Linked DNA regions of Homo sapiens. The protein of the gene in region 4 purifies or fractionates together with the protein of the main gene of each other region. This does not show direct contact. Each region holds a gene or a part of one and is shown on either strand. Other genes may lie near its edges.

Region 1 (4,976 bases), on a different chromosome or scaffold from region 4:
CCAGAACTGCAGACCCATCCATACTGAAACAGAAAGTACCAAAGTGCATTCCAAAGACACAGGCTTTCACTTCTGCTTCTGGCCAGAGCACTTCCCGGCATTGTCTCTTCTGACAAAAAGGCATAGAAAAATATTCTTGGCCTGGCACAGTGGCTCACACCTGTAATCCCAGCACTTTGGGAGGCCAAGGCAGGCAGATCACTTGAGGCCAGGGATTCAACACCAGCCTGGCCAACAACAGTGAAACCCAACTCTACTGAAAAAAAAAAAAAATACATATATATATATATATGAAAGCCGGGAGTGGTGAGGCATGCCTGTGATCCCAGATACTTGGGTGTCTGAGGCACGAGAACCACCTGAACCCAGGAGGCAGAGGTTGAAGTGAGTCAAGATCGTGCCACTGCACTCCAGCCTGGGCAACAGAGCAAGACTCTGTTTCAAAAAAGAAAAGAAAGAAAAAATACTGTTTCGATTTGGGGGCACTTTAAGAACTAGAGCCCACAAGCAACACTTACATGTTCAAAGTCTCTCTCAGCTTTCCAGCTAACAATTTATCAAAATTCTCTCCTGCACTTGTGAACTGTGGCACATCATCTTCTTTTTCTTTGGAATAGATTCCTAAAACAAGGCCCTGGGAATAAGCAAAAAACGTAAATATAATAGAATTAGAGTAGATCCCTTAGAGAGGCTCAGGAGTCCCCAAATTCCAGAAGGAACAAATAATTCCACCCAAACCGTGTCCTCCCCATGGACAGAAGAAAGCAAAAAAAGAAGCAGGTGCTGGGGTCAGCTACATGTGCACCTGCCCAAGTGTTTCAGATTCCTGCCAAAGCAAGACCCATCACTGCCCGTCCTGGACATTGCCCTGGGTTTCTGTGCTCACTCCTAGGAGACGGCTTCACTTTCAAATAAAGCAGAAAGATGTTTTGTTTAAGAAAAATCTATTTGTCACCAAGATAGACCCTGAAAGGATTCAGAACATGCCACTCCAAAATATACCGCTTTGGCACATTAGTTATTTTCAGCCAAAGGCGCTTGAGAAACAGCAGGTGCAGAGGTACTCTCTGACCTCCCTTTCTCCCTAAAAGCAGGTCACACAAATTCCCATGAGAAAGGTGATCTCCCTGTACCAGGAAAAGGAGAACATTCTTATCACCAGAAACTGGAAGTCAACACCAAAATGGACCTGTACAAATAAACCTACTGAACTCACCCTTATCTTCTGTTAGTTACCCCCATATGATTTCCTAGTCATTATTCCACAATTTACTAACCCAAGCCCCTTTGTCTTGTCACACCCCCACAATGCATTGTTCTTTGTTTAAAAAGGTATACAAGCTTTTGGGCCCAACGCTTCTTCAGGTCTTCATTTTCCTCTTGCAGACTCCTGTGTACACGTAAAAATAGTAAATAAAATCTGTATCCTTTTCTCTTGTTAATACATCTTATGTCAGTTTTCTTAGGCCCAGCCACAGAACCTAGGAGGATAGAGGGAAGATTTTCCTCCCCTACAATCCTCAAGTGCAAATCCCAGATATTCTAGGATGCCGTTCCAGTCAAGCCAATGGCTGTGCCTCCCATCGTAAGGACTGTTGCCACGTAAGGACTGTGGTCAACACAGAGGCTGTAAGAGAAGTACCAACTTCCTAGGGAGGGTAGAAGCACTCTGCTAAGCACTTAGCGGCTCACTCCCTTCATCTCCTTCACAAGTCTCAGGTCTCAAATACCAGAAATGAGGAAGCAAACCTAGTAATACTTAGTATTTACTTTTGCACGGCAATTTATGACTTTAAAAATGTTTTGTCTGCCTCATGGCAACTCTGTGAGGTGGAAAGAACAAGTAGCCTTATCCCCCTTGACCGATAAGGAAACTGAAACCTAGTTTGAGACAGGAGCTCCTGTGTGGTGTGGTAGGACTGAGTGAGAATCCAGATGTCTTCCCGCCCAGCAGTTGATCTTTCCACAAAACCACACAGACACTTAGAATAGTGCCCTCTCGGTCTTTTCCACCAAAGAAAACGGCCTTCCTTGGCATTGGTAACTCTGCCAGGTTCTAACTTCCCTAAGATTGTTCACTCCCCGGGAATCAATGGAGCCAACTGAGCAACTGTTATCTGGGTAGGCTGTGGCACAGTACTGGAGATAGCACTGGTCAGGCGACTGGTCCCTCCACCACTGAGATACCTGCAGGAGACTGGAGCTCAAGCTCCCCCTAGAACGTTCTTCTGCAGGGACAGTCATCTCTTTCTGGTGCTTAGGCATGACTCCCAAGCTTGTGCTGGTTCCGAGAGCCATTCCCTTTGCAGATCCTTCACATCTGAAGAGCGACCTTCGTAATTTTTTGGAGTTCACTTTTCTTCTGGAAGATGCTCTTAATTCTGGGAAACGTGGGTCTCTCCCCAAAGCCCTTTTCTCTAGAGAGGCATGCTTTTCCTCTAGAAACCCTTCCAAGCTACTTAACTCCCTGACCTTTCACTTCCGCGGGGGAAGGAGCCCTGTGACTCTGGGACCTCAGAAACCCTTTCACCTTGGCAAACTCGGGCTTCCTCCAAGCTCGGATGGGAGCCCCACCGCCGCGTCTTTCCCCGGGTTACTGCCAGGACCGCGGGTGACGACTGGAGCAAGTGCGCGGCCGAGTGGAGCCGGGTAAAGGGCGGCTACAACCATCACCCCCTAGCCCCGAGCAGGGGAATCGCGCCCTCAATACGACCGCTGGGGTCCTCAGCGGCCTAGGCCGATCCCCGCAAGGAGAGAATTTTTCTTTTAAACTGATTTTTGCAACTTGGCTTGGGCGCCCAGGACACCGCGGCTTCGACCAGCCCCGCAGCCCCAGTAGCCCACGGGCAGGGCCCCAGCGGCGGACCATGAGCGAGCCGCCGCCTCTCACCTTCGTCATGTCTGCGGTGGAGAGACTCCGGCTCCCGAAACGTCTCACGGCCAGACGTCGGACGACTACTCGCCCCGCAGCCGGAAGAGGCAGCAAGAACATCTTGTCGGCTCGGCCCCTCGCACCGCCCTCCAGCGAGCACGTGGAGAGCGGTGGGCGGGCGCGCCTTGGGGCGGGGCTTTCGGGGCGCAGACGGCGTGCGCGCGGACTGGCTCGGGCGCCGGGCGAGCGGACGTGCGTCTAGGGGGCGGGACGGATGGGCAGCACCGGCCGACTGGACCGCTGGGATCAAACCGCGGTTGTGGAGGGGACTCAAGGGTGCGCCCGCATTCGTGTGCGCCCGCATTCGTGTGCGCCCGCATTCGTGTGCGCCCGCGCATGCGGGCGGGGGCGAAAAGGCGGGGCTTCCGGACGCGGTTGACAGTCCCGGGAGCAACGCGAAGTAGAGGGGCGGGACCGATATGGTGACGTCACACGATGGGTGGGGCGGAGGCGGGGCGAGTTCTGCAAGCGGGCGTGGGCGGAGCGCTGGGCAACTCCCGGGAAATAGAAACTGAGTGCCAGAGCTTGTTGTCAAGGTTGCTGAATAGACGACTGCATAGTGAAGACACTCCCACTGAGTTTTCGTTTGTTTGTTTGGTTTTTTTGAGTCGGAGTCTCGCTCTGTCACCCAGGTTGGAGTGCAATGGAGCGATCTCGGCTCACTGCAACCTCCCGCTGCTTAGTTGAAACGATTCTCCTGCCTCGTCCTCCCGAGTAGCTGGGATTAGGGGCGCCCGCCACCACGCCCAGCTAATCTTTGTGTTTTTTTGTTGTTTTTTTGGATTTTTTTTTTGAGGCGGAGTCTCGCTCTTGTAGCCCTGGCTGGAGTGCAGTGGCGCAATCTCGGCTCACTGCAACCTCCGCCTTTCGGGTTCAACAGATTCTCCTGCCTCAGCCTCCCGAGTAGTTGGGACTACAGGCGCCCACCACCACACCTGGCTAATCTTTGTATTTTTAGTAGAGACAGTGTTTGGCCATGTTAGCCAGGCTGGCTTTGAACTCCTGACCTCTGGTGATACACCCGCCTCAGCCTGCCAAAGTGCTGGGATTACTTACAGGCGTGAGCCACCGTGCCCGGCAACTCTTTGTATTTTTAGTAGAGACGAGGTTTCACCATGTTGTCCAGGCTGGTCTCGAAGTCCTGACCTCGTGATCCACTTGCCTCGGCCTCGCTAAGTGCTGGGATTACAGGCGTGAGCCACCGCACCTGGCCTGAGTTATTTTTATTCGTGTCCTTTCATCTGTTCCACAGGTGCAACGGTGTAAATACTGTTTTTGAAAATGATGTAACACTATTAGGTTCGTTGACTCGTGCACATAGCAAGTCAATACGCCCAGACACCAGGGTTGCAGCAGAGAAAGAGGTGTAATCGTGGAGTCGCCAAAGGAGGAGATGGGAGGAAACCTCAAATCCATCTCCCTGAGGAATTTGGGGTCAAGGTTTTTAAGGGTTTTGGAGAGGGCTATAGTGTGGAGATCGTTGATTGAAGAGTGCAGGGTGAAGTCATGGGACAGGGCGTTGAAGAACCTGTATTCTTAAGCTGACCCCATTCCTCTCTGGGGATCTTCAAACTGGTAGCTGGAATTCAAGGTCTGAAAAATATCTTAAGCGATCCTTAAACAGAAAGCTTATGATTCTAATGTCAGAGATCCTGTCTATAGGAACAATGGGAATGCAAATGGTCAGTATGTAGTGCTAGGTGACTTTTAGCAACAAGGAAGTGGGCCAAAGTACAGCCTGATTAATGCTTAATTATAACTATATTTCTGCCTAGAACTTGGCATGAAATTTTTGTCAACACAGTGGGGATGGTTTCAATAGAAAGTTTTCAAGTAGTGCTCAATATTTTTATATATTTTTATTTTCTGTAAAGCGTTTTGTTTTTTTTAATTCCTTATTTTTTACTTTTTTTTTTTTAACGGAGTCTTGCTCTGTCACCCAGGCTGGAGTGCACTGGTGTGATCTCAGCTTATTGCAACCTCCACCCCTGGGTTCCAGCGATTCTCCTGCCTCAGCCTCCCAAGTAGTTGGGATTACAGGCGC
Region 2 (4,432 bases), on a different chromosome or scaffold from region 4:
CACACCTGCAGTCCCAGAACTTTGGGGGTGCCAAGGCGGGTGGATCACTTGAGGTCAGGAGTTTGAGACCAGCCTGGCCAACATGGTGAAACCCTATCTCTACAAAAAATACAAAAATTAGCCATGCGAGATGGTGTGTGCCTGTGGTCTCAGCTACTTGGGAGGCTGAGGAACAAGAGTTGCTTGAACCAGGGAGGTGGAGGTTGCAGTGAGCCAAGACTGCACCACTGCACTCCAGTCCGGGCAACAGAGTGAGATTCTGTCTCAAAAACAAACAAACAAAAAACTCTACAGAATAAAAACGTCCTGGCTGAAAAAAAGGAAGTCCTGACTTTGGAGTATCAGAGGGTTGGGGATACATGATCAGGGTTGAAACCACTTTGCCCTTAGCCCAGGATTTGTAATCTTTTTCCATATATATATATTTTTTAATTGGTTCATCCTTCCAGAACCCAGCTCAGAAAATTTGGGAAAGAAAGAAAAGAAAAAGTTTTAAACCCACCCATCTCTCCCTCTTAATATAATTAATGGCAAATTTTCTTTCCTCCAAATTTTTTAAATATAATTTTTCCTAATATACTTGTAATCTCAGTAAAAACAAAAACAAACAAAATTTTAAAAATCCCACAATTTTGCTTTCTACATTTACCACTTGAAATTATTTAGTGTTCACTTTCTCCGTAATATCAGTTACCACCATTTTCAATAGCAGAAAAATAGTCCATTAAACTGATATACTATATAATTAGCCATTAAGGTAGATATTTAAATTATTTCCAATCTTTTGCTGCTCTAAATGAAAATGTCCACTGGAACATTATGAATATAGCTTTTCCTCTATTTTGGATTATTTCCTTAGAATCCAGTCCTGATTATGTAACTTTTAAAGGACATGAATCTAGAAGTAACCCAACAAGACAATTCATCACAGATTACTATGTATTGACCAAAACATGTCAACTGAGAGGCAGAATAGTATGTATAAGCTTTGGAGTTATGAATTTGAACTCATCTCATTAGCCACTGGTCTCATCTTAAACAAGTAACACTAGGATCCATCAGTTCCACTGTCCTTTTATGGATACAGAGCTAATTAAATACTTTTAGGAATTAGAATGACTCCCTTAACTGTGGGTTCTCCTGATTTTAACTTTTAAAGTCTGGGATTCCGTTAAATCCAAGAAACTTTTTTTGAGTCCTACTACATGCCCTGGTTCTATGTGAGGGACAGGTAAAACAGAGAGAAGACTTAGACCCTGCCTTCAAGTGTTAGCAGCCTTGGATGTGAAAAATACTACAAGAGAAATAGATACAGGCATAGAACGGATGACTTTCAGGGAAAACTTTGAAATGATGGAGTGATTTCCTACGGATAAAAAGTTCATTAAGGAGAGAATGGGGAGGGGGCCTGCTCCAAGCGAAGGCATAGGAGATTGAAATAAACGTATCACATTGGGGAACTGCTAGGGTTTCAGCCTTCATATATGTAAGGTGGAAAGAGAAGAGCAGCAAGATGTGAAGAACTAGAGGGATCACACCATAGGGCTTAGATTTCAACTTCTAGGTCAGTATTTCCAAAGACCAGCATGAAAAATGATTTTAGGTGGCACAAGGACAAAAATATATGTATTTTAAAATATAACAAAATATATTCATATATTATAAAAGGACATAAGTAGAAAACTCACACGTGATTTCACCAATGTTATTACATAGGATTAAGTTAACTAAAGAAGTGGCGTCTTTAAAGAATCATGAAAGCACTTGAATGATACAGCACGTTTTTCCTTTATGAGGAGACTTAAGGAGTTTTAAGCAAGGGAGTAATATGAACATAGGTTTTAGAAAGCTCCATCTGGTGTAACGAATGAATTAAAATGGTGAAATGCAATGGTAGGGAAACCAGTTAAAAGACTGTTGCAAAGGCCCAGGTCAGATATGGTCAGAATCTGAACTAGGTACTGAGTAATGAAAAGTAAAGTTTTAAGATATTTAGGACATTGGGACTGAGGGATGTGGGGAGTTACTGACTGGGAAAGAGAAAGCAGAAGAGTCTTGAATGATTATCTAGAGCTGTGGCTTTGAAAACTAGGGTGAATAGAATGAAAAGAAAGGTTTTTCTTAGTGTGCACATGTGGATCAGGAGAGAGAAAACAGGAGTGTAACTATTAATTTTAGTTTGGCAGGGGTTGAATTTGTTACTCCAGATGGACACTATAATAATGTAGAAATAGAAATAATAAAGGTTTCAGTTCAAGGAGGTGAAAACTAAGAGATACCTGAAGTAAAGACAAAGCATAGATTATAAATGAAGTAGAAATGTTAGGGACAACGATTATATTTTGTTGTCCTGAACAGAGGAAAGGTCTTGCTTGAGCTTTGGTTACACATTTATAAAGTGGTAAGACAGCGAAGTAAAAAGAGCTCCCCAGAGAACCTCCCACCAGCCTTTGACTGGGAGAACAGGGTGGAGCCACAGAAGTTCATGCCATTGGCAGACGCAAGGAGCCTGGCCTCTTGAGTTCCTGTGTGGCAGGGTAGGAGCAGCTCCCTCTTCCTCTGCTGAGGTTTTTCTCTTTTTCCTTTTTTGCCCAATAAATTCCATTATTCTCACCCTTCTGTGTCCACAAGACTGATCTTTCCTGATTGTGTGACAAGAACTTAGATGAATTGAGAAGAAAGTCCTTTTTTTTTTTGAGACAGAGTCTCACTCTCACCCTAACTGTGTTTGGCGCTCAAATATGGGGCCTGAGGAAGTGAGGCAGGAAATTGAAGAAAGCAAAATAAAATTTAAAAAGTGAAAAACAAGCTTTCTATATGAGGCTGACTCATCCCAAAGGCAGTAACAGGCAAAGCCCTGACCCGGGTGTAGTCTTGATAACATTCTCAAAGAAACCAGGGCTCAAAGGATGTGCTCTGGAGACTCTTCCAGCACTCCCTCAACAAAAGGATAAGAAAAAGTAAAGTTCCCCCTTGAATCCCATCCCCTTCCGTGTGATTGTACCTTGCTCTGCAAGTTTTATGAGTTTATAGATTCCTGTTTTCTGTAACTAGTAACTTCAAGTATTCTGTTTTATCTAAACAGCACAGTGAAGGTTATAAGACATGCCTGAGTAGGCCTAGGCTGCGGCCGTCTGGGCACCATAGTGAAGATTATGAGATAAGCACTTGCAAGGCTCTTTTGAGCAAGCCTAGATAACAGCCACCTGGGCTGCATAAGCAAGGGTCATAGTGAGAGGTGACAGTGTGCTGGAAGTCCTCACAGCCCTCGCTCCCTCTCGGCGCCTCCTCTGCCTGGGCTCCCACTTTGGCGGCACTTCAGGAGCCCTTCAGCCCACTGCTGCACTGTGGGAGCGCCTTTCTGGGCTGGCCAAGGCCAGAGCCGGCTCCCTCAGCTTGCAGGAAGGTGTGGAGGGAGAGGCGCGAGCAGGAACCAGGGCTGCGCGGGGTGCTTGTGGACCAGCTGGAGTTCCAGGTGGGTGTGGGCTTGGCGGGCCCTGCACTCGGAGCAGCCAGCCGGCCCTGCCGGCCCCACGCAATGAGGGGCTTAGCACCCGGGCCAGTGGCTGCAGAGGGTGTACTGGGTCCCCCAGCAGTGCCGGCCCACTGGCGCTGCGCTCGATTTCTCACTGGGCCTTACCTGCCTTCTGGCGGGGCAGGGCTCGGGACCTGCAGCCTGCCATGCCTGAGCCTCCCACGCCCTCCGTGGGCTCCTGCACGGCCCGAGCCTCCCTGATGAGTGCTGCCCCCTGCTCCACGGCGCCCAGTCCCATCGAGCACCCAAGGGCTGAGGAGTGTGGGCACACAGCGTGGGACTGGCAGGCAGTTCCACCTGCAGCCCCAGTGCGAGATCCACTGGGTGAAGCCAGCTGGGCTCCTGAGTCTAGTGGGAACTTGGAGAACCTTTATGTCTAGCTAAAGGACTGTAAATACACCAATCGGCACTCTGTATCTAGCTCAAGGTTTATAAACACACCAATCAGCACCCTATGTCTAGCTCAGGGGTTGTGAATGCACCAATCGACACTCTGTATCTAGCTACTCTGGTGGGGACTGGGAGAACCTTTGTGTTGACACTCTGTATCTAGCTAATCTGGTGTGGACGTGGAGAACCTTTGTGTCTAGCTCAGGGATTGTAAATGCACCAATCAGGGCCCTGTCAAAACAGACCACTTGGCTCTACCAATCAGCAGGATGTGGGTGGGGCCAGATAAGAGAATAAAAGCAGGCTGCCCAAGCCAGCAGTGGCAACCCGCTCGGGTCCCCTTCCACACTGTGGAAGCTTTGTTCTTTCGCTCTTTGCAATAAATCTTGCTGCTGCTCACTCTTTGGGTCCACACTGCCTTTATGAGCTGTAACACTCACCGCGAAGGTCTGCAGCTTCACTCCTGAAGCCAACGAGACCACAAACCCACCGGGAGGAACGAACAAC
Region 3 (4,432 bases), on a different chromosome or scaffold from region 4:
GTCTTTTAAGACTGTTCATCCCTACAGTGTATTATCATCTTCTTGTGATTATCTTACGATTACAAGCGTAAATTGAAGAAAAGATTGCTGTATGAAATCTCACTGTCAGTGAGTCATCTCAGCATTTTTACCTTATTTTCAAAGACCCAACCAGAAAAGAGGAAACTCTTTTGCACTTTTCAATCAAGAAACTTAAACATAAAGCAGTAGAGGGCTTCCCTAATAACATGTTTCCTCCAGCATTCAAAATTAGTGACTTCACATCACTAATATGTGTCTTACTTATTTTAAGTATAAATGATTGGGCAAAGAATCCTTGGGAAAAAATAGCCTATTTATTTCAAATACTGTATAGTGGATTCTCTGTGCCTGTGACTCACCTCCTTCCCTCCATCACTGTTCTCATACTCAGGATGCAAAGGTTCAGTCTCTGTCTTCAAAAGTGAGCTCCCAGTCTAGCTGGAGGGAGTGATGAGTGAACAAATAATTACAGCGTAATCCTTTGGTAAACCAGAGCAGGCAGTAATTAACTCTGCCTAGAGATGAAGTGGCGCTGGAGAGAGTTCAAGGAGGCTTCACAGAGAAGGTGGCAGTGGAAAGCTGAATCACCTGGTAGGCAAGGCGGGAGGAGGGGATGTCAGATCAGTGAGGGTCTTTTGTGCTGAGCAGATGAGTTTGGATCATAGGAAGGTGTGAGAAAATTTTTTGCCTTTTTTTTTTCGTAAACAGTTTTTCATGAAAAAAGGTCATCAAAGTAAAATGTATTAAGTTTTTTTTAAGCCTGCTGACTGATTTTTATTAACTTTGCCTAGAATGCCTTTAAGCTTGGAGCCTGTATGATCCTGGGTACTCAGTCTTGGGGTTGGAATATAACTTGAGGGCAAGCTCTCAGCCTAGATCATCATTTCAGTTATAGTACTTACCTCTGAGTAGCTACTCCATAAACATTTGTTGATTGAATGAGTGAGTGAATGAATGCAGCATCAAATACAGTATCTGAAATAAAGACTTCAATTTTTTTTGGAAGGACTTTTTAAAAAAGACATTAGACAGTTTTATATGTTCTGACTTTGTTGGATTTTGGTAAAAGATTTCAGAATTGGATTTTTTTTCTCATGTTTTTCATCTTGTTCAGGAGATGAAAATGCCTAGAGGTGATAAATATAGGCTCCTATGAAATACAGCTGTATTAGACGTAAAATAATGGGATCTGTTATTTTGGGTATTACATCATATGCTATCTTGCTGCTAGATTTTAGCATTACATAGCTATGGTAGGCATTGTCAGTTTATAGAAAATTTTGTGGGGAGAAAAAAACATGCCTTAGAAAAAGATGAGTGGTAACAACAGAACTCTTTGTCCCAGCTTGTGGAATGAGAATAGTGGAGCTAATGAAAATCAACATGTTGAAGTAATATACTCTTAAGAAAGTACCTTCCACCTTTTTTTAAGGTTGTGGCAATATAACAACAGAGAACACTGGTGGCCAGGGTCCTAAGGGAAGGTTTGATGCTGCTTGTAAGTTCTGATACCTTCCAAAATTCATAATACTGAGAGTATATTGAAAGACAGGCCGGGCGATGTGGCTAACCCCTGTCATCCCAGCACTTTGGGAGGCTGAGGCGGGCAGATCACCTGAGGTCAGGAGTTCAAGACCAGCCTGGCCAACATGGCGAAACCCTGTCTCTACTAAAAATACAAAAATTAGTCAGGTGTGGTGGCACGTGCTTATAGTCCCAGTTACTCGGGAGGCTGAGAGGCTGGAGAATCAGTTGAACCCGGGAGTTGGAAGTTGCAGTGAGCCGAGATCACCCCACTGCACTCCAGCCTGGGCAATAGAGCAAGACTCTGTCTCAAAAAAAAAAAAAAAGGAAAGAAAGATAACAGCAGTGGCCCGGCGCAGTGGCTCACGCCTGTAATCCCAACACTTTGGGAGACCAAGGCAGGTGGATCGCTTGAACTCAGGAGTTTGAGACCAACCTGGGCAACATGGTGAAACCCTGTATCTGCCAAAAATACAAAAATTAGCCGGGCGTGGTGGCACACACCTGTAGTGGTCCCAGCTACTCAAGAGGCTGAGGCAGGAGAATCGCTTGAACCCAGGAAACAGAGGTTGCAGTGAGCCGAGATTGTGCCACTGCACTCCAGCCTGGGCAACAGCTAGACTCTGTCTCAAAAATAAATAAATAAACAAACAATATATTGGACAGGTCAAACATACTGGACAGCTACTCAGGAGGCTGAGGTGAGAAGATCACCTGAGCCCAGGAGGCAGAGGTTGCTGTGAGCCAAGATCACACCACTGCACTCCAGCCTGGGTGACAGAGAGAGACCCCCATCTCAAAAGGAAAGATAGCAGCTAAGCTGGGATCTAACTAAATTGCAGTAAGTCTGAGATAGTGATATCATAAGAGATTGGCTGAAGAAGTATGGCTTTCTGTAGACAGGGGTGTTCTGGTCACTAGGAGGAGGCTTCTGAAGCAATGGAGAGCAAAACACCACCACTCTTAGGAACCCCCTGTGAACATCTTGAAACATTTGTCAAAACAAACAAACAAACAACACCCCAGCAAGAAGGGAAAAAAAAAATCTATGATGATCAGGTATCACAGCACTGAGAAAGTTATACTGTGTCTGGCTTTAATAAAACCATGTAACTTTGAATTATTTTTTAAAGTAATTATTCCACATCTGTGGGTGGTACCTGGCACAGCTCAGTTCCAGTGGAATTAGTTTAAGAAATACTGCCCTGTAGTGAATTACCCAGGCTCTCCAAGGCTGAGAAACATGGATGGCACAGCTCTCAGGACATTTCACCACCATTTACTGTCATTGTATGCTGAAGCTGCCTTGTGATTACTAAACTAGCTTTCCAGAAGCCTTGGAATGGGGCATGGGTTACAGAGTACCCTGAGTATTAGGTGTTATTGTTCCAGTCATTGGAACTGTATATTTCCTGTTACATCTAATTTGTTGGCATTCTAGAATTAATGTGTTTAAATTGCATGAGTCAATTTCTTGGAGTCCTGACTGCTCTTAGATGAACTAATAGTGTCTGACCTCAGAGCCCTTCCTTTCCATCTGCAACAGTTTTTTAAGGTAATTGTTTTTAACTTTTAAAAAATATAAGTAATTCTAACAATTGTTCAATCCCAGCCATCTAACAAATCAGCTACGTTTATCTTTTCATTTAATTAAAATAGCTTTTTAGCTATTAAATAGCAGGGACCATATTTTAGACTTGTTAAACAACCTACAATCTAAATATTGACCATCTGGGCCAAATATTTTAAGCGAGGGCTTACTCAGGGCAGACAGGTATCTGATAATATACACATTCAACCACTTCGCACCTGACCAGTGTGGTAGGAATTCAGAGCTAGAGAAGTCCTGAAGAAGTGGCACCTTAGGCTTGCTGGGGGAAAGGATTTAGACACAGGCCTGGAAGAGCAGGGGAGGGCATTTATTCATTGGAGTGTGGGAAGAGCAGGGATCGAACAGATGTGAAGAAGCACACACAAGTTAGGTGGAGGTGGGGACTGAGAGATGAGCGTGACTGTACAAATCCACAGATTCATGCTGTTTGTTCTTATCCTGCCTATTCAGAGAGGAGTTGGGGTGGCATGTAGTAAATGTCATCTATTAAATGTGTGGGTTCTTATGCTGAGACATCAGCACCCCAATCAGTAACCATAAGTGGAAGGATGCCCCCCTTCTTTCCCTTGAGAAAGATTACTTCTGATAGAGGAGATTGAGGTCCAGATACAGTCTTAAGATTTATTTTTTATTTTTCACAAATGTAGGTTTCAGAGGGAACTGAAATTAGTAATATATTGTGTATTTTATTCATTCAGCTAGGTCATTAGGTTGTAATTTGTTTTCTACCCTGGAGGAGCCCCATCCTGTAGCTGGAGAAACACAATGACAATTGCAGTGATGGAGTCTCACCCAGAATACCAACCATGCAGAAAGGAGGACTAGCTAATCCAGCTTAGAGGTGTCAGGATCTGGAAAGGCTTCACACAGGAGGTTCATCTAAACAGAACCTTGAGGATTGAGTAAGAGTTGGTCAGGTGAGGAGAGGAGGCGCTTCAGGAAATGGGAAAGCATATGCAAAGTCATATTTGCAAGAGAACATGGCATGATTGGAGTTTGGTCCTGCAGGAGGGTAGGCTACCTAAAGGAAAGCCAAGGCCAGAGAGGCATACACAGGGATCAGATCTTCTTGTGTCTTGCAGACCATGTTAAAGAGTTTGGAGTTTGTCATGAAGCTTGTTCAGGTCTTAGCTCAGATGTCACTAACTTCCCATTGCACTTAGAATAGAATTCAGACCTCTTACCATGGCCACAAGGCCCTATGTGATCTGGCCCCGGACTGCCCATGTGGCCACACCCATCTTGAGCCACTCCTCCATTGCTTGCCCTTGCTAT
Region 4 (3,769 bases):
CAGGCCAGAGTGCAATGGTGCAATCTCAGCTCATCACAGCCTCCGCCTCCTGGGTTCAAGCGATTCTCCTGCCTCAGCCTCCTGAGTAGCTGGGATTACAGGCATGCTCCACCACGCCCTGCTAATTTTGTATTTTTAGTAGAGACAGGGTTTCTCCATGTTGGTCAGGCTGGTCTTGAACCTCCTGACCTCAGGTGATCTGCCTGCCTCGGTCTCCCAAAATGCTGGGATTACAGGCGTGAGCCACTGTGCCTGGCCTTTCTAACTTCTAATAAATACAATTTAAGTTAAAATATTGAACCATTTAACATAACCATAACTTTTTTCTGATTCCTCTTAATAAGGATATACTTACCAAGATATGAGCTAAACACCTACAAGTTCTGCCATCTTTGAACGTCTCACAGAGATTCTCATTCTAGGCAGAGATCCTACAAGAATCCAGGATGATGATCCCAGATTGCCAGCGCAGGTTGGAAGCCGCATATTTGGATCTTCAACGGATACTAGTAAGCAAAGACTTCTGTGTCATGTTTAAATTTTTTTTTTCAATCCAATACATGGAAAGCCAAAAGTTTAAATATTTAACACTGAGAACTAGTTGGCAGTATTTCTTATTCACTTGCCCTTTATACCGCTATATTTTAAAATAATTAATGGAGTTTAAATTGTGTTTTGAATTATGCCTCCAGTAAAAGTACTGTTTTCTAGCATGTTTGTTCAGTTTATTAAAATTTAGCTAGTTAAATTTATTTAAGTTATGATAGTACCAGTATTGTCCAGCAATGTCTTGATTATTTGGTTTTCATACATAAAGATCTTTTGAGACATTGAGGATGAGTTGACTGATTAAAATTTTAAAAGATCTAATGTTTCAAAAGAATTTGGGATCTTATTAAAAGGATCTTGAATTCTTTCACATTCAAACCTAGATCAGTTTGAGAGGGGGAAAAAACCTGGTAATCTATGTAGTCCCCTCATACTAACTTGGAGCTGAATAACACTTATACTTGCTGGTATAAATGCCTTGTGATACAGAAGGTAGATAAAGCAGGAAATAATAACTGTTAAAATACTATCTAAGACAGGAAGCATCATTTGTATTTCTTGACAGTTTAAATGCTTTTTTCTCTCATGAATCTAGTAGCTGAGAAAGTAATAGAAATTGCTTGGAAAAAAATAATGTTGGCCGCCAGGTGCAGTGGCTCATGCCTGTAATCCCAGCACTTTGGGAGGCTGAGGTGGGTGGATCACGAGTCAGGAGTTCAAGACCAGCCTGACCAACATGGTGAAATCCTGTCTCTACTAAAAATACCAAAATAATAATAATAATAATAATGTATTTGGATGATATATTTGTATGTGAAGATGTATTCAACAATATCTCTGCCCTTGAAGAGCTTGTATTTACTAACAGAGAACAAAGATGTGTTTAAGGTATAACATGGAGGTTTAAGAAATTCTTACGTATAGTTTGAGCTAAGCAAATTCTCAGTCGTTTTGCTTTCAGTTTTCATATTAAATACACACATACTTTATTTCCTCTACTGTTTGTATATCTCCATCTTTTATTGACCTGACATAAATTGCTAACCATAGCTTCATTTAAAAATCAAACAAAATTTCCTGTGTACTTTAGATAATATTATTTCATTTGTCTGTTATCATTACAATATATTAGTAAAAGTTGCCTGTATATCAGTATTATGGAAAAACTCAATCTTTAAATATCAGAAAATGAAAGATGTATTTTGTTTCCTTTAGTGTAGGGTATGTAATACCCATTAGCAAGCAGGCAATTCATTTGTTTAATTCAAAGATTATATTTAACTCTGTTGTGACATCAGAAGCCTTCTTTGTCATTGTGAATAGTCAGTGGATTATTTTGGCCTGAATGCTGTCATATATGTAACATGTTAGTAAATCTTCCTTTTTACTTTTCTCTTTTGTATGATGATGATGGGTCAACAAAATGAGAATAAACTTTTTCTGAGGTTTTTATTTAATTAATGCTGGTAGCTTTAGAAGACTGTTATTCACTTATTTTATGAGAATATATACAGTGAAACAAAACCACCAGTTATTTCTTCCTTTCCTTGTAAAGAAGGAACAGAATGTGGGAAACCTGTGGAATTACAATATATTTAGATGAGGCTTGGGATTTTTTACTTTTAATTTTTTAGTTATTAACATTAATGGTTTGTAATATTTGAGTAAATAACAAAGTACTGAAACTTGAAAAGGATAAACTTAATTTTTATTGTATTTCATTTTAGGAAAATGAAAAAGACTTGGAAGAAGCTGAGGAATATAAAGAAGCACGTTTAGTACTGGATTCAGTGAAGTTAGAAGCCTGAAACTTTTCTCGTATGGGGTGGTTTTTGCATTAAATCCTGGGGTCCATTTTACAATCCATTATTTTTGACCACTGCTATGTGTTCAAGTAGTATGAGAATGTGATTGTTTTTATCTGGTTACATATATATTTCTTTGTCTAATTTAATATGTCAAATAAATGAGTTCATCTAATAAAATTGTTTATTTTATACTTTACAAAATTTTTAAATTAACCTTTTATCATTAAACCACATAGACTTTATGACAGAGAACTATAATCTGTTAGGTTCTATTCGAAGTCTACATATTTTGCTTCACAAGCATGGATTGAGTTTTAAAAAATAGAATACCATTTTTTCAAATAACAATCCAAATTTTAGTTGGGTGTAGTGGTACATATCTGTATTCCCAACTACTGGGGAGGCTGAGGTGGGAGGATTGCTTGAGCCCAGTAGTATGAGGATGCAGTAAGGTATGATTATGCCAATGTACTCCAGCCTACGGAACATAGCAAGACCCTATCTCTAAAAGATTGAATTGTAAGCAGTTTATTTGGAATAGAATACAACTGATATAAAAGGAAGAACTCTCTTTGGGGAAGGTCTCACATAATAAGGCCTTCACAGTGAAACTCTAACATTTCCATGACTATAAATGAATGAGAAACATTTAAATCTTTTTCGAGGACAGATTCACACAGAAAACACCCCCAACCATTTAGATCTTCAAATAAGATTCTTATGAACAATGAAGAGTTGAATGGTATTTTGAAACAATAATGGCCATTGCCAGTGAAGTGCTGGCAAATATTTAAAGACTCTTCAGAATAGGAGGGGAACCTCTGATTGGTAGCTTTTGCTGATTTCTGTGGTATAAATACTCCTACCTTTGACCAATTTCAAACTACTAATATGACATCACTGAACACAGAGTTATGAAAATTTGGGCCAGCTCCACCATAATTTGGCTGTAGCCAATCTTGATTATCTAGATTGACTCGGGGGGGAAAAGTATCATTTTGTCAGAAAGCATTTTTCCAGTACAATTGTGACCCTGTTACCCAATCACTTGAGTTTATTTTCCAAAAATACAAGACAACTCATTTAGATTTTTTATATTTCCAGAAAATGTGTGTGAGCCTTATATCACCAGCCTAATGGGCATTGGTGTAAGGAACCAAATATCTATATATAGCATTTAAATTTGAAAAGTCAAAATTGGAAAAAAAAAACTTGAATTTTTGCTGCATTAAATACTTACAGTGTTATTATGGTTGGTATGATTTTGGAAGTTGTAGATAATCACTAGAAATCATAACATTTATTGAATCTGTCCAAAGATCAGAAAAGAGAAAAATAATTATTTTTTCCTAAGTTATTCTTAAAGGTTCTGTTGTTATAAAGCACAGATTATATCACTTATAAAATAAACT
Region 5 (4,432 bases), on a different chromosome or scaffold from region 4:
ATCAGTTATTTGTGTTCAATGATAATCACAAAATATAGGACTATGGGTACTTCTGAGTACAGGAAATGTGTGTCTCACAGGCATCTTTCACATTTCATTTCTGAAGCTGGATGAGGGTACCCAGATTTTTTTAAAATATTCTTTATACCTTATATAGACACTATATATTCTTTTTTGTGTATAAAATATTCTCTCATAAAAAGGACAAATCTTATAAGTGAATTTTACAGGCAAGAGAAGATACTTTTTAAAATCATCAAATTAGCCAAGTTTTTTTCTTTAAAACTCACAGTGAAGTTTTTTTTAAAAATAAGACCAGATTAACCAACCTTAAGAGTTAAATATATTTAATAGGGTAATCAGAGGCAAATTCCAATGGTAATATATCCTGCTAAATGAGGACTTTTCTCATCTGAAATCTATTGTCAAGCATAAATAAGCAATTCCCAGCTGTACATTTAGAAAGACATAATTTCTAGTCCTTAATACCATTACTTCAGATGGGATATTTAATATGATGCTTCTGATACATTGTAATCTATTCTTTAAATACTAAATCTTTAAAAGGGTTATGTAACTTTGCCAGTAGCTCAAATTACTGGGCACACTAGGCTACGAAGTTCAAACATAAGATCTTAGATGCAGTGTAACACTTATAGTGAATCGCACAAGATAGTCAACTTGAACAAAATATTTTTTAAAAAGACATAATTTTGCATACTGTATTAACTATATTTTTCCATTAAAAATTACAGAAAGTTGGAGACTTTAAAATAATCCTTAAATTACAGAATCTTTTTTTTTTTTTTTTGCGGGGGGGACGGGGTCTCGCTCTCTTGCCAGGCTGGAGTGCTGTGGCATGATCTTGGCTCACTGGAACCTCCGCCTCCCGGGTTCAAGTGATTCTCCTGCCTCAGCCTCCTGAGTAGCTGGGACTACAGGCACACACCACCACGCCCAGCTAATTTTGGTATTTTTAGTAGAGATGGGGTTTCACCATGCTGGTCAGGATGGTCTCAATCTCTTGACCTCGTGATCCGCCCGACTCAGCCTCCCAAAGTGCTGAGATTACAGGCAAGAGCCACCATGCCCAGCCTACAGAATCTTAAAGCAACACCAGGTATTACCCAGTCCAATTCATTCATTTTGCAGATATGAAAACTGAGGCACAAGAAGCTTAAACGACTCAGGCAAAAACAAGACTAGAAAAACCTAGTTTTCCAATTCACTGTCAAATGTTCTTTTCATAATACTACACTGACTCCCCTGCAACACAAACACATACACAAGGATGCAAATATGTAAATGAGCCTATAATTTTTCAAGTGGCTCTGCACGCAGGTAAACATGCTCTGCCCTCAACCCTCCTCTTCCTGGCCCCCTAAGGCGATCTGACTAGAAGGCATATTCACACCCCACAAAATCAGAAACAAGGGGGACTACAGTGCACTTTTTCCTTTTTGCTCTCAATTACTGTGAGACCAGAGTTGCAAAACAACTTGTGGCTTTTCACCCATTTCCCTATCTAATCTGGACTGTTACAGGAAGATATGACCTTACCTTTCCTTAGCTACACACCACTAATCTAAGATAAAATAAGTATTCACCTATAATAGGCCCTATAGTTCTCTCTCAACCCCAACCAAACTCAGGTTCTCTGACAATCAAACACAATAAAAACAAAAGAAATGTACTGGGCGTGGAGGCTCATGCCTATAATCCCAGCACTTTGAGAGGCCAAGGTGGGAGGACTGCTTAAGTCCAGGAGTTCAAGACCTACCTGGGAAACATAGGGAGACCCTATCTCTACATAAATTTTTTTTAAAAAATTAGCCATGCATGATGACACAAGCCTGTAGTCCTAGCTACTCAGGAGGCTGAGGTGGGAGGATCACTTGAGCCCAGGAGGTCAAGGCTACAGTGTGCAGTGTGCTATGATCCTGCCATGGCACTCCAGCCTGGGCGGCAGCCAAAAAAAAAAAAAAAAGAGAAATGAAAGAACAAACATAAAATTTAGGGCTATCTAATTTATACAAAGACTGTCCTGAGTTGTTTTTCGGTTTTTGGTTTTGCTTTTTTTTTTTTTTTTTTTTTTTTTGAGAAAGGGTCTCGCTCTGTCACCCAGAATGGAGTACAGTGGTGCAATCATAGCTCACTGTAGCCTCGAACTCCTGGGCTCAAGCGATTCTCCCACCTCAGCCTCCAGAGGAGGTGGGACCACAGGTGCATGCCAGCACACCTTGCTAATTTCTTTTTTTAATTTTTAGTAGAGGCTAGGTCTTCCTATGTTGCTCAGGCTGGTCTCGACCTCCTGGCCTCAAGTGATCCTCCTTCCTTGCCTCCCAAAGTGGTGGGATTACAGGCATGAACTACTGTGCCTTGCCTGAGTGTTTTTTTTTTTTTAATAGATTCTACCATGTAGCACAGGCTTATTTTCAATAATGCCTTAAGTCTTACATATGTACTGAAAGATGTTTTTGTCTTTAAATAAAATAAGTGACCCAAGAAACCATAAGGATTTGTTATGTAATTTATAGTAACAGAAGACATGTCACGGCTATAACAGAGACCTGTAGGTGTATACTCACATGCAAATCAACTAAATTTCACTTTAAAATAGCACTGTAGTCCCAACAACAATGCTCATATACCTAAAAATATAATTTTTAAAAAGTATTTATTTATTGTATCTGACTTCTAATCCATGAGACTATTTAAAAGTCCAGTCTTAGTATAAAGTACATTGTCTGGCATAACATATATAAATTTTATTGTAAGAGGATTCTGAGAAGGTGTTTCCCTGTCATTCCAAAATTTCCGCTATGGCTCAAATTTTCAAATAGAAGTTTTCCCCCATACCCCACATTCTAAAGTAAGAGGACAATGAGATACTCAAAGTTGAGACCAGAACTTCCTGAGAGTATCCATAAAGCAAGAAATCAAGTGTCCATAGACTCTATAAGTCATAATTTCCACATGTATACTTTCCAAATATATGAGAATTTTTTTTACATTTACAAGAACTTATTTCAAAGTTTTATAGTAGCTTTTGCTGTTACGTATTTTCTCAGTCAACAGATACTAAAAACATAGTTACTACTACATGAAAGGGTCTCCATTATTTTTAAAGAGTTGGAAATTACTCAATACTATATACTGTATGTAAATGTGTCACTTTAGACAAATGTTATGAATAATATACTATTTTTATAAACCTAGAATCAGGATATACCATTCGCCTGGGAACTAGACCCTAAGAAAACACTTCCTGGTTTTTTGGGGATTTTTGTTTGTTTTCTGAGATAGGGTCTCACTCTATTGCCCAGTCTGGAGTGCAGTGGCACGATCTTGGCTCACTGCAACCTCTGCTTCCTGGGCTCAAGCAATCCTCTCACCTCAGCCTCCTGAGTAGCCAGGACTACAAGCATGCAACACAATGCCCAGCTAATTTTTGTAGTTTTTGTAGAGATGGGTCTCACTACGCCGCCCAGGCTGGACTCAAGTGATCCACCCGCCTCAGCCTCCCAAAGTGCTGGGATTACGGGTATGAGCCACCAAACCCAGCCGAAAACACCTCCTATACCAGCATTCTTTCTCTGTTTCACCTATATTCATCTCCACATTTTATAAACCTCTTTAATCGTGTAAATAAAGCCCTCTCATAAAATACATTCCCTCAACTTTCCTTTAGGAAACCAAGTATCAATAAATAGCCCTGAGGTTTCCACATCAGCACAGCTGGGTAACCCAATCACAGCAATGCCCAGTAACAATGCTGCTCCAGGCTACCACGGCCAAGTGTCAGAGATCAGGGTATAGTGACCGGAGTGGCCAACTCAAGTAAGTGTACAGGAACCTTGCAGTCAACACTTGAAGAGATAAGGCAAGCAAGGAATTCTGTAAAAATGAGGGAAGTATGTGATTTATCATTATTTTTCATTTTACATTAGGAAGTTATCAATAATTATTTTATGGATAAGAACCTGACCATGGCCACAAAAAGTAACCATAAAGGACCCCAAAAAAGTATAAAGAGTACTCCATCTGGTGGAAATCATATCTTCTTCACATTCTGTCCAGTCTTGGGGAAGAAGAGTGAGGAACGAGGAGGAGTGTGAGACACAATGTGTGTTCAAATTGGTGATGATGAAGACATTTAGGAGTCAGTCCTTTATCTGAAGAAAGATAAGAAGCCACTGAGGGAGGGTTAAGCAGGAAAGAGGGGAAATGATTTTGTAGTTTAGAAAGGTCATTCTGGATGCAGTATCCTTTGTCCAACACTTCCCATGTATTATCTCTCAAGTTAGTAAATGTGATGTCCCCTCAACAAGGAAAGCTCGTGAACAGAATGCCATATACCGACTCGGCATCTTTTAAAGTCAGATCAAATTCTCTCTTCTCTATGATGCTTTTCCTGTACCCTTCCTTTTAC
Region 6 (3,620 bases), on a different chromosome or scaffold from region 4:
AGTTGACTTAGCTATAGCAGTACAATGATTAGTAATGTAAAAATTAACACAGAAATTAACCTAAGGAATGAAGGGTGGGTTTGTCAAAATATCAAGTAAATTTTTGTTTCTAAAGTACATTTAATGTAGATGACCTAAAGAATGCGTTATCCATCCTATATAAAAGAAAGATAAAACACAGGTCACCAATTTTCTCATTTCACCCCATTTACCTTGTATAGAGGATTGTTCATTCCTTTGGGACTAAGTTATAGTTATGGTGAGTGTGTATTTACTGTAGTTTTGCCTGATCTCACTCATTGCACTTCCTGGAGTTAAATTTTCCAACAGCCATGTTGAGGAATAGCACTCTGCATGTTTTTGTTTTGTTTTTCGGGGTTTTTTTTAATTGAAGCCCTAAACCAGGAATTATTTGTGTTCTAACAGGAGGATGAACTTGCTGAAAATAAAACTTTGCTATGTATTTACTCTTTTTTAAAAGACAAAAGCAAAACCAGACTTTCTACGTACTACTCCAAAGACTGTGATTGTGACTATAATACATTTTTGGTAATTTTTTTATACCTAATTTGTATAGGAAGTGCTATTTCTCATAGGCTGTTTCTTGAAATTTTAAGTTTATTGCTTTAAAATGGCAGTGTTTCTCCCACTTTGATATGCTAACATTTAGTAAGCACTGGCTTTATGAAAGCGGCTTTTTATAAGTATACTGCATTTTTTGAGCCTATCATTAATTAGCTTAGTATGAAAGATAAGAAAATCTCCATGTTGTATCCATTTGGCTCAGGAAGATTCTTTGCCTTACCTTTCTTAGAACTCTTTATTGCTTATCAAAAGTTTGAGTACCCGCTTGGTTTTTTTTTGGTAATTAAATATTGTATGATTTATCTGGTTCAAGGAAGATGCACTATTCAGTTATCTATTGAGAAATTATTTTGCAGTGGTTTTAGTGGGTGAAAATGTCCCATCTGCACCAGTACACAGGCAGGCATTATCATTCTTCACCTACTTTTTAAATAGTGGCAACTTGGGATTCATTCTGGTGATTCTGAACCTTGCCTCATAGCTTAAAGTATAAAAAAGATTCAAGAGCAGTGAGGTTTGTTCTTTCCAGTGAATGGTGGACTGAGTGGTGCGAGGTGGAGGGCTAACAAGAGGAAAGAACTACATTCTTCAGAATACAGTGATGAAAATTCATTTTGAAACTCAAATATTTTCATTTTGGATATTCTCCTGTTTTTATTAAACCAGTGATTACACCTGGCCATCCCTCTAAATGTTCTAGGAAGGCATGTCTATTGTGATTTTGATGAAGACAGAATTATTTTTCTCTGTAGAAACACAGATACCACTTTATCAGGGAAGTTAGTCAAATGAAATGGAAATTGGTAAATGGACAAAAGCTAGCTAGTAAAAAGGACGACCCAGCAACATGCTTTAACCCCATTGTATGTTTGTGGAAAGAGCATAGTTTAACATCTTGAGAAATTTGGGACATAAAGTTTTCATGGTAGACAGTTCATGCAGTATATGAATTGCCATAATGGAAATAATCTGATTTTATTTTTACAACTAACATCCATTCCCCTTCATTTAAACACCTTTTGTGTTTTACTTCAGTGAGGAGATTGGAGTCTGAATGGATCTGTTTTCCAAGAGATTCTGAGAAATTTTTGTATTCAGCAGTTGGAAAGCTCTCTATTCTAGTTGATAAAACTTCCCTTTTTTGATGTAGATGCAGATATTCTATACAGTTCTGTTGTCTTTTACTAGGACTGTAAACTTTTGTGATAAAATTCAAATAAGATTTTATTTCTTGGTAATTTTGGCTTTCACAATTTATCTTTAAATCCTTGAGCAATCTGTATACAATTAAGAGATTTCTGACATTTATTCTTACACTAAATGGATCAACTCTAGGATTTAGGCATGTTAACTTCTGTTGTGTTTTGAATCTCTCCAGAGTTGCATGTAGATAGCATTTATTTCTGTGCCCTTAAACCCATTTAGAAAATAACTACAAAGTAAAAATGTAGAGGAAATAGAAATGTATTTTTTCATGAACATTTTGATACAAATTTCATCATTTAATGATTCACCAATTTCTTGCATTAATTTGAATTTAAGCATTTAATTCAAAGAGAGGGGAGCATCCATTATTGATACATGTGGGCTTTTAAAAACTCCATCCTTTATAAATAGTCAAGGTTTGGGCCACACAAAGTATATTTTTATCATGGAAAAATTTCAACTCCTCAAGCCGTAATGTTGAACAGAATTGGAGTATTTTCTTTATAATTTCTTGAACAGGCAAATGAAAGCTTATTATAGAATGCATGTATTTTCTTTTATCTTTGGAACATCAGCACCAGTATATTGCTGGCAGCTATTGTATTAAAAAATAAAGTATATTTTCACTATCATAAAGGATTCTTTTTTCCCCCCTCATGAAAATAAACAACAACTTGGGGTAAAAGTGTTTGAGACTACTATTTTTTTTTCTATGAGTGATTCAGCACATTTAATAGGTTAAAGGAGAAAAACCATAGGATCATTTCAATAGGTACAGAAAATAACTTGATTAAAATATTCATGCTACTCATTCTTAGCAAAATAGGTAACTTTTTTTTTAACCTGATAAAGACTTTTATTGAGAACCTATAGCAAATGAAACAGAAGCGATCTCGTTAAAGTCAAGAATAAGACAAGGTTGCCCTCTATCACAGCTACTATCCAGCTACTTTAACAGCTACTTTATTTAGAGATATCCTAGCCAATGCAGTAACATCAGTGAAAGGAATAAAGAATGGAAAAGAAGCAACAAAATGACTGCCCTTTGCAGGTAATGATGTTGATGGTGTGTATGTGTATAAAATCCAAAATAACTTACAAATACTAAAAATAATTCAGCTGGATTTCTAGTTGCAAGATCGAGGAACAAAATTTAATATAACTACTATATACAAATAGTAAGCACATTGAAAGCCAATAGAGAAATTGGTAACATTGGTTTTTTTCTGGAGGAGAATTGGGTGCCTGAGGTAAAGGGGTGGGAAATTATCAATGTATACTTTTAAGTTTTTAGAAATTGGTAAATATATTACCTATTCTAATAAACAAAAAGTGCTTTAAAAAACGAATAAAGATCCTAAGTGATTGAGGATCAAATCAAACAATGTGCAATTCCTAGCCAAGCATGGTGGCTCATACCTGTAATCCCAGCACTTAGGGAGGCCAAGGTGGGAGGATTACATGAGGCCAGGAGTTCAAAACCAGTCTGGGCAATACAGCAAGACCCTGTCTCTACAGGAAAAAAAAAAACAAAAAACAAACAAAAAAAAAAGCCAAGTGTGGTAGCATGAGTCTGTAGTCCTAGCTACTCGGGAGGCTGGGGAAGGAGGATCTCTTGAGCCCAGGAGTTTGAGGCTATAGTGAACTATGGTTGTGCCACTGTACTCCAGCCTGGGTGACAGAGCAAGACCCTGTATCTTTTTTTTTTTTAAGTGCAATTCTTTATGGAGAAAAGTACAAGACATTATTGAAAGGCCTGATAGAAATTTGTTCAATGGATAGGCATACCATATTTATGGATGGAGAGCTCAAAAGCATGAAAATTTAAA
Region 7 (4,432 bases), on a different chromosome or scaffold from region 4:
ACCACTCACCGTCTTTTGTTTCCTACTTAATTTGTTAAAACCCGGTATTTGTAGATTACTTGAACATCACCAGCCATTTTTGAGGCTACTTTTTAGTCTCTTAATATAATTGTGTGGAGTTATGACAATAGTTTATTTTGTTCTGTTTTATGTGTAGGAAGATGGAGTGAGAGGGCTGGTTCAATGCTTTCCGGTCTGGATCCTCCTGCTTCTTGCCTTCAGAGTTCTCAAAACCAAAACCTGGTGATTCTTTCAGGAAAAGAAGTGATTTTTAAATTTGACTCATTATCACCATAGTTAAATGTAATGACTTTTTGAAGAGTTAGATAATTTTATTGGACTTACCTCTTCAGATAATGCAAAAAAATCTTTAAAGCAATTTAAGTTCAACAGAACCTGTTAGGAATCTTGTGCTGTTCCTGTATGTGGTTTATCTTTCTTCATACTTTGAAATGAAAGTACCAGTGTGTATCATTTCTGGAACAGACTGCCCAAGATTCCAGAATTCAAGTCTATCATCATTGTCAGACTATAACTTCTCATGAGCTTATGGCACAGCATTGTTGAAAACTCCAACACGTGTAGGTTGGCATTACCATCACCTATCCAGCACTACTGAAGGGTCTGGTTCCTTGGAATGTTGTAGGTGTTTGCAGTGAGTCCCCGGCAAAACCATCCATTTAACTTCCTTTTTTTTTTTTTTTTTGGAAATATGTGTGCCTTTATTAGCTGAGCCACTACTTGAGGGGGATGAAGCGGGAGGAGTGGGTGGCCCCGATGCCGGGCCGGCAGTGCTTCACCAGCTTATAGGTGATGGAGAACTCGCCCAGGTAGTGACTGATCATCTCCGGCTTGATCTCCACCTGGTTGAAGGTCTTGCCGTTGTAGACGCCCACCATGCTGCCCACCATCTTGGGCAGGATGATCATGTCCCGCAGGTGCGTCTTCACCACTTCCGGCTTCTCCATGGGCGGTGCCTCCTTCTTGGCCTTGCGCAGGCGCTTCAGCAGCGAGTTCTGTTTCCGCCGCAGGCCCGGGTTCACTTGCGGCCGCTGGCACGCACTGTACAGCTGCGTCAGCTGCTCGCAGGACACGTCCCGTCCCGCAGCTGGTCCAAGTCTGTGCCGCGGTAGGTGAGTTTGCGGAAGGTCCGCTTCTTCTGCTCTACCTCGGCCATCTTGTCGGATCCTCAGAAAAGTTCACTTCCATTTTTAGGCAGCTCGTAAAGCTTTAAAATTTTTTGGCAAACTAAATTTAATATACTTTTAATGATTTAAAAATGAATTAGTAAAGTTTTTTTGTTTTTGCTTTTTTTTTTTTTTGACGAAACGGAGTTTCACTCTTGTCACCCAGGTTGGAGTGCAATGGCATGATCTCCGCTCGCCACAACCTCCGCCTCCCGGGTTCAAGCGATTCTCCTGCTTCAGCCTCCGGAGTAGCTGGGATTACAGGCATGTGCCACCATGCCTGGCTACTTTTGTACTTTTAGTAGAGATGGGGTTTCTCCATTTTGGTCAGGCTGGTCTCGAACTCCCGACCTCTGGTGATCCGCCTGCCTCGGCCTCCCAAAGTGTTGGGATTACAGGCGTGAGCCACCCCACCTGGCCGAATTAGTAAAGTTACTGATAGCAAAACTGATTTTTCTTACTGTACTTTTATTGGCAGTTACTTTTTGTGTAATGCTAATAATTGTTCTGTATATTAATAAAGCAAGCAAAATACTATTAGCTCATCTGTAATTTAGTATTTTTATAAAGCTAATACTTTTATAAAATTTTAATGCTCTATAAAAGTATAAAGATACCTTGTACAGATACTTTATAAAGATCAAAGACAGCCGAAAGTCCTGCAATCCCAGCACTTTGGGAGGCCGAGGCGGGTGGATCACCTGAGGCCGGGAGTTCAAGACCAGCCTGGTCAACATGGTGAAACCCCGTCTCTACTAAAAATACAAAAAATTAGCTGGGCGTAGTGGCACTCGCCTGTAATCCCAGCTACTCGGGAGGCTGAGGCAGGAGAATCTCTTGAACCCGGGAGGTAGAGGTTGCAGTGAGCCCAGATTGCGCCGTTGCACTCCAGCCTGGGCAACAAGAGTAAAACTCGTCTCAAAAAAAAAAAAAAAAAAGAAAGACCACCAAAAGTCTTGTGTTACTAGCTCTTGAAATCTTCTATATTTGCAAATGAATGTATTAGTGTAAAGGAATTAGGACTAAGCTGTATTCGTGATATCAGGTGAGGGTTTACATTTTCATTTACACTAAAGAACAGCTTTCCCATGATTTGTTCCTCCTTTGTAGCACGCTGAGTATTGTGTGTTGAATTTGAATTCCTTAAATGGAATTAAGGGAAATTGAGGTTTCTGTATGATTTTTGAAGAAATGCTGCAGCGTATAAATCCAGGCTAACAAGATATAATGTCTTTTAAGAACTGTGAGATAACCTACAAAATGAATGATGTATATTTGTAGGGCCTATAAATGGCTGATCCTAAGACTTAACATCTTGGCAGAAGCACTCGGATTCCTGCAGAGTCAGGTTTCTGTTTTGGAAATGGACCACACTGCAGATTTTGAAAATGAGTGGTGTTATTCCTGACTCCTTCAAAATATATCCCTCTGACCTTTCAGCTCCGTTCACCTTCTCTGCTGCTATCACAAGTCAGACTTGGTTAAGGGAAATAGATTAATAGTAAAACTGTTTTAGCCATCAAGTTTCCTTTCCCATTCCCCAAACGTACTAATTAAACAGTTACTTCAAGGATTTATATAAACCTCTTAATAAAGCTGATAAAAGCTGTACAACTAAATATTTATGAAAGCTTTTGGAAAAAAATCTATTTTTGGATTCCTACTCTTTAATATTTATAAAGTGATTTGAACGCAAAAATGCCAAATAGAACTAAACTGAATGCTGTGATTGTTAATAATACTATTGAGTCTACAGCAGCCTCTGTTGATATATGGCTAAATGAGTCCTTCATTATATCACAGTGGTTATGCTGCTTTCACTGAAAATCGTTAGATGGTGGGGCAGTACTTTTATGAAACTATCAAATTTCTGGGATTCCATTTTTTATAAAATGACATTTTGACAGTGTAAACCTTTATTTTAATTTGAATCTTTCATTATCTACTTTGATTAAATAAAAATGCTGAGTTACTCTTCAGCAAGTATACAAAAAGTAATCATCTCTGCCAAATTTCTGTGATTTGTAAATTCTGAGTTTTTTTGGTGGCTCTTGCATGATTTCTTGGTTGGCAAATTATTAAATTTCTTCTCACCCCTCATTTCAAAATGAGGGTGCTTCTTTGGCTTTGGCTGGAAATTGTGTTAGCAACCTATAAAAAGAAAAACTTTAGACAAATTAGACTTAGTTTATTTGAGCAAAGAAATGAATCATAAATCAGGCAGCACCTGAACCAGTAAAGCTTCAGAGTGCTCACCCAGTGACATAGGCAGGCAGTATTTATAGACAGAGAAAGGAAGTGACATGGCCAGGCGCAGTAGCTCGCACCTATAATCCCAGCACTTTGGGAGGCCGAGGCAGGAGGATCACCTTAGGTCAGGAGTTAGAGACCAGCCTGGCCAACATGGTGAAACCATGTCTCTACTAAACATACAAAAATTAGCTGAGCGTGGTGGCGCTTGCCTGTAATCCCAGCTATTTGAGAGGCTGAAGCAGGAGAATCGCTTGAATCCTGGAGTTGGAGATTGCAGTGAGCCGAGATCACACCACTGCACTCCAGCCTGGGCTGCAGAGTGAGACCCCATCTCAGAAAAAAAAAAAAAAAAAGAAAGAAAGGATGTGACATATAGAGATAGCCTGATTGGATACAGCTCTGCTTTGCCTTATTAGGACATGTCTGAGCAGTTTGCAGCCCATAATTGGCTGAAAGCTCAGCTGCCATGCATGGTTGGCTGAGACTTGGTTTTTATTACAGGAATATACTCTCAAATTATGTTGTAGTTTGTGTGCATATTAAGTTAGGTGACAGCTCCCTAGGCATGGAGGCAGTTTTAGGCCAGGTTTAAATTAAGGGCTACAAGCCACTGTCTAGCGAGGATGTTACTTGTTTTGTTTTGTTTTTGAGGGCGCAATCTCGGCTCACTGCAGCCTCCGCCTCCTGGGTTCAAGCGATTCTTCTGCCTCAGCCTCCCGAGTCGCTGGGACTACAGGCACACACCACCACGCCCAGCTAATTTTTGTATTTTTGGTAGAGACGGGGTTTCACCATATTGGCCAGGCTGGTCTCAAACTCCTGACCTCATGATCCGCCTGCTTCGGCCTCCCAAAGTGCTGGGATTACAGGCATGAGCCACCGCGCCCAGCCGAGGATGTTACTTATATTGAAATAACAGATATTTTATTCTTGGTCTCAGCAAGATTTTGAGGCTGAGACAGGAAGTGAATCCAATACATGGTAACTATTTT

What was found.
Region 1: the proteins of TBCA (region 4) and LAP3 fractionate together in Homo sapiens (co-fractionation; one large-scale study listed by BioGRID). This does not show direct contact.
Region 2: the proteins of TBCA (region 4) and THEM4 fractionate together in Homo sapiens (co-fractionation; one large-scale study listed by BioGRID). This does not show direct contact.
Region 3: the proteins of TBCA (region 4) and DGUOK fractionate together in Homo sapiens (co-fractionation; one large-scale study listed by BioGRID). This does not show direct contact.
Region 5: the proteins of TBCA (region 4) and MSRB3 fractionate together in Homo sapiens (co-fractionation; one large-scale study listed by BioGRID). This does not show direct contact.
Region 6: the proteins of TBCA (region 4) and CLIC4 fractionate together in Homo sapiens (co-fractionation; one large-scale study listed by BioGRID). This does not show direct contact.
Region 7: the proteins of TBCA (region 4) and TIGAR fractionate together in Homo sapiens (co-fractionation; one large-scale study listed by BioGRID). This does not show direct contact.

Annotation. Positions count from the first base shown.
Region 1 is NC_000004.12:17,575,482-17,580,457, reverse strand, and holds the start of LAP3 (cytosol aminopeptidase), read right to left. Parts: upstream 3,261-4,976; 5' UTR 2,993-3,260; coding exon 2,891-2,992; intron 635-2,890; coding exon 519-634; intron 1-518. UniProt on the Homo sapiens protein: Cytosolic metallopeptidase that catalyzes the removal of unsubstituted N-terminal hydrophobic amino acids from various peptides.
Region 2 is NC_000001.11:151,902,722-151,907,153, forward strand, and holds part of THEM4 (acyl-coenzyme A thioesterase THEM4), read right to left. Parts: intron 1-4,432. UniProt on the Homo sapiens protein: Has acyl-CoA thioesterase activity towards medium and long-chain (C14 to C18) fatty acyl-CoA substrates, and probably plays a role in mitochondrial fatty acid metabolism. Plays a role in the apoptotic process, possibly via its regulation of AKT1 activity.
Region 3 is NC_000002.12:73,932,899-73,937,330, forward strand, and holds part of DGUOK (deoxyguanosine kinase, mitochondrial isoform a precursor), read left to right. Parts: intron 1-4,432.
Region 4 is NC_000005.10:77,690,006-77,693,774, reverse strand, and holds the end of TBCA (tubulin-specific chaperone A), read left to right. Parts: intron 1-422; coding exon 423-509; coding exon of another isoform or gene 510-653; exon of another isoform or gene 654-2,276; coding exon 2,277-2,357; 3' UTR 2,358-2,609; downstream 2,610-3,769. UniProt on the Homo sapiens protein: Tubulin-folding protein; involved in the early step of the tubulin folding pathway.
Region 5 is NC_000012.12:65,284,687-65,289,118, reverse strand, and holds part of MSRB3 (methionine-R-sulfoxide reductase B3 isoform 2 precursor), read right to left. Parts: intron 1-4,432. UniProt on the Homo sapiens protein: Catalyzes the reduction of free and protein-bound methionine sulfoxide to methionine. Isoform 2 is essential for hearing.
Region 6 is NC_000001.11:24,841,846-24,845,465, forward strand, and holds the end of CLIC4 (chloride intracellular channel protein 4), read left to right. Parts: 3' UTR 1-2,476; downstream 2,477-3,620. UniProt on the Homo sapiens protein: In the soluble state, catalyzes glutaredoxin-like thiol disulfide exchange reactions with reduced glutathione as electron donor. Can insert into membranes and form voltage-dependent multi-ion conductive channels.
Region 7 is NC_000012.12:4,323,635-4,328,066, forward strand, and holds part of TIGAR (fructose-2,6-bisphosphatase TIGAR), read left to right. Parts: intron 1-705; exon of another isoform or gene 706-1,205; intron 1,206-4,432.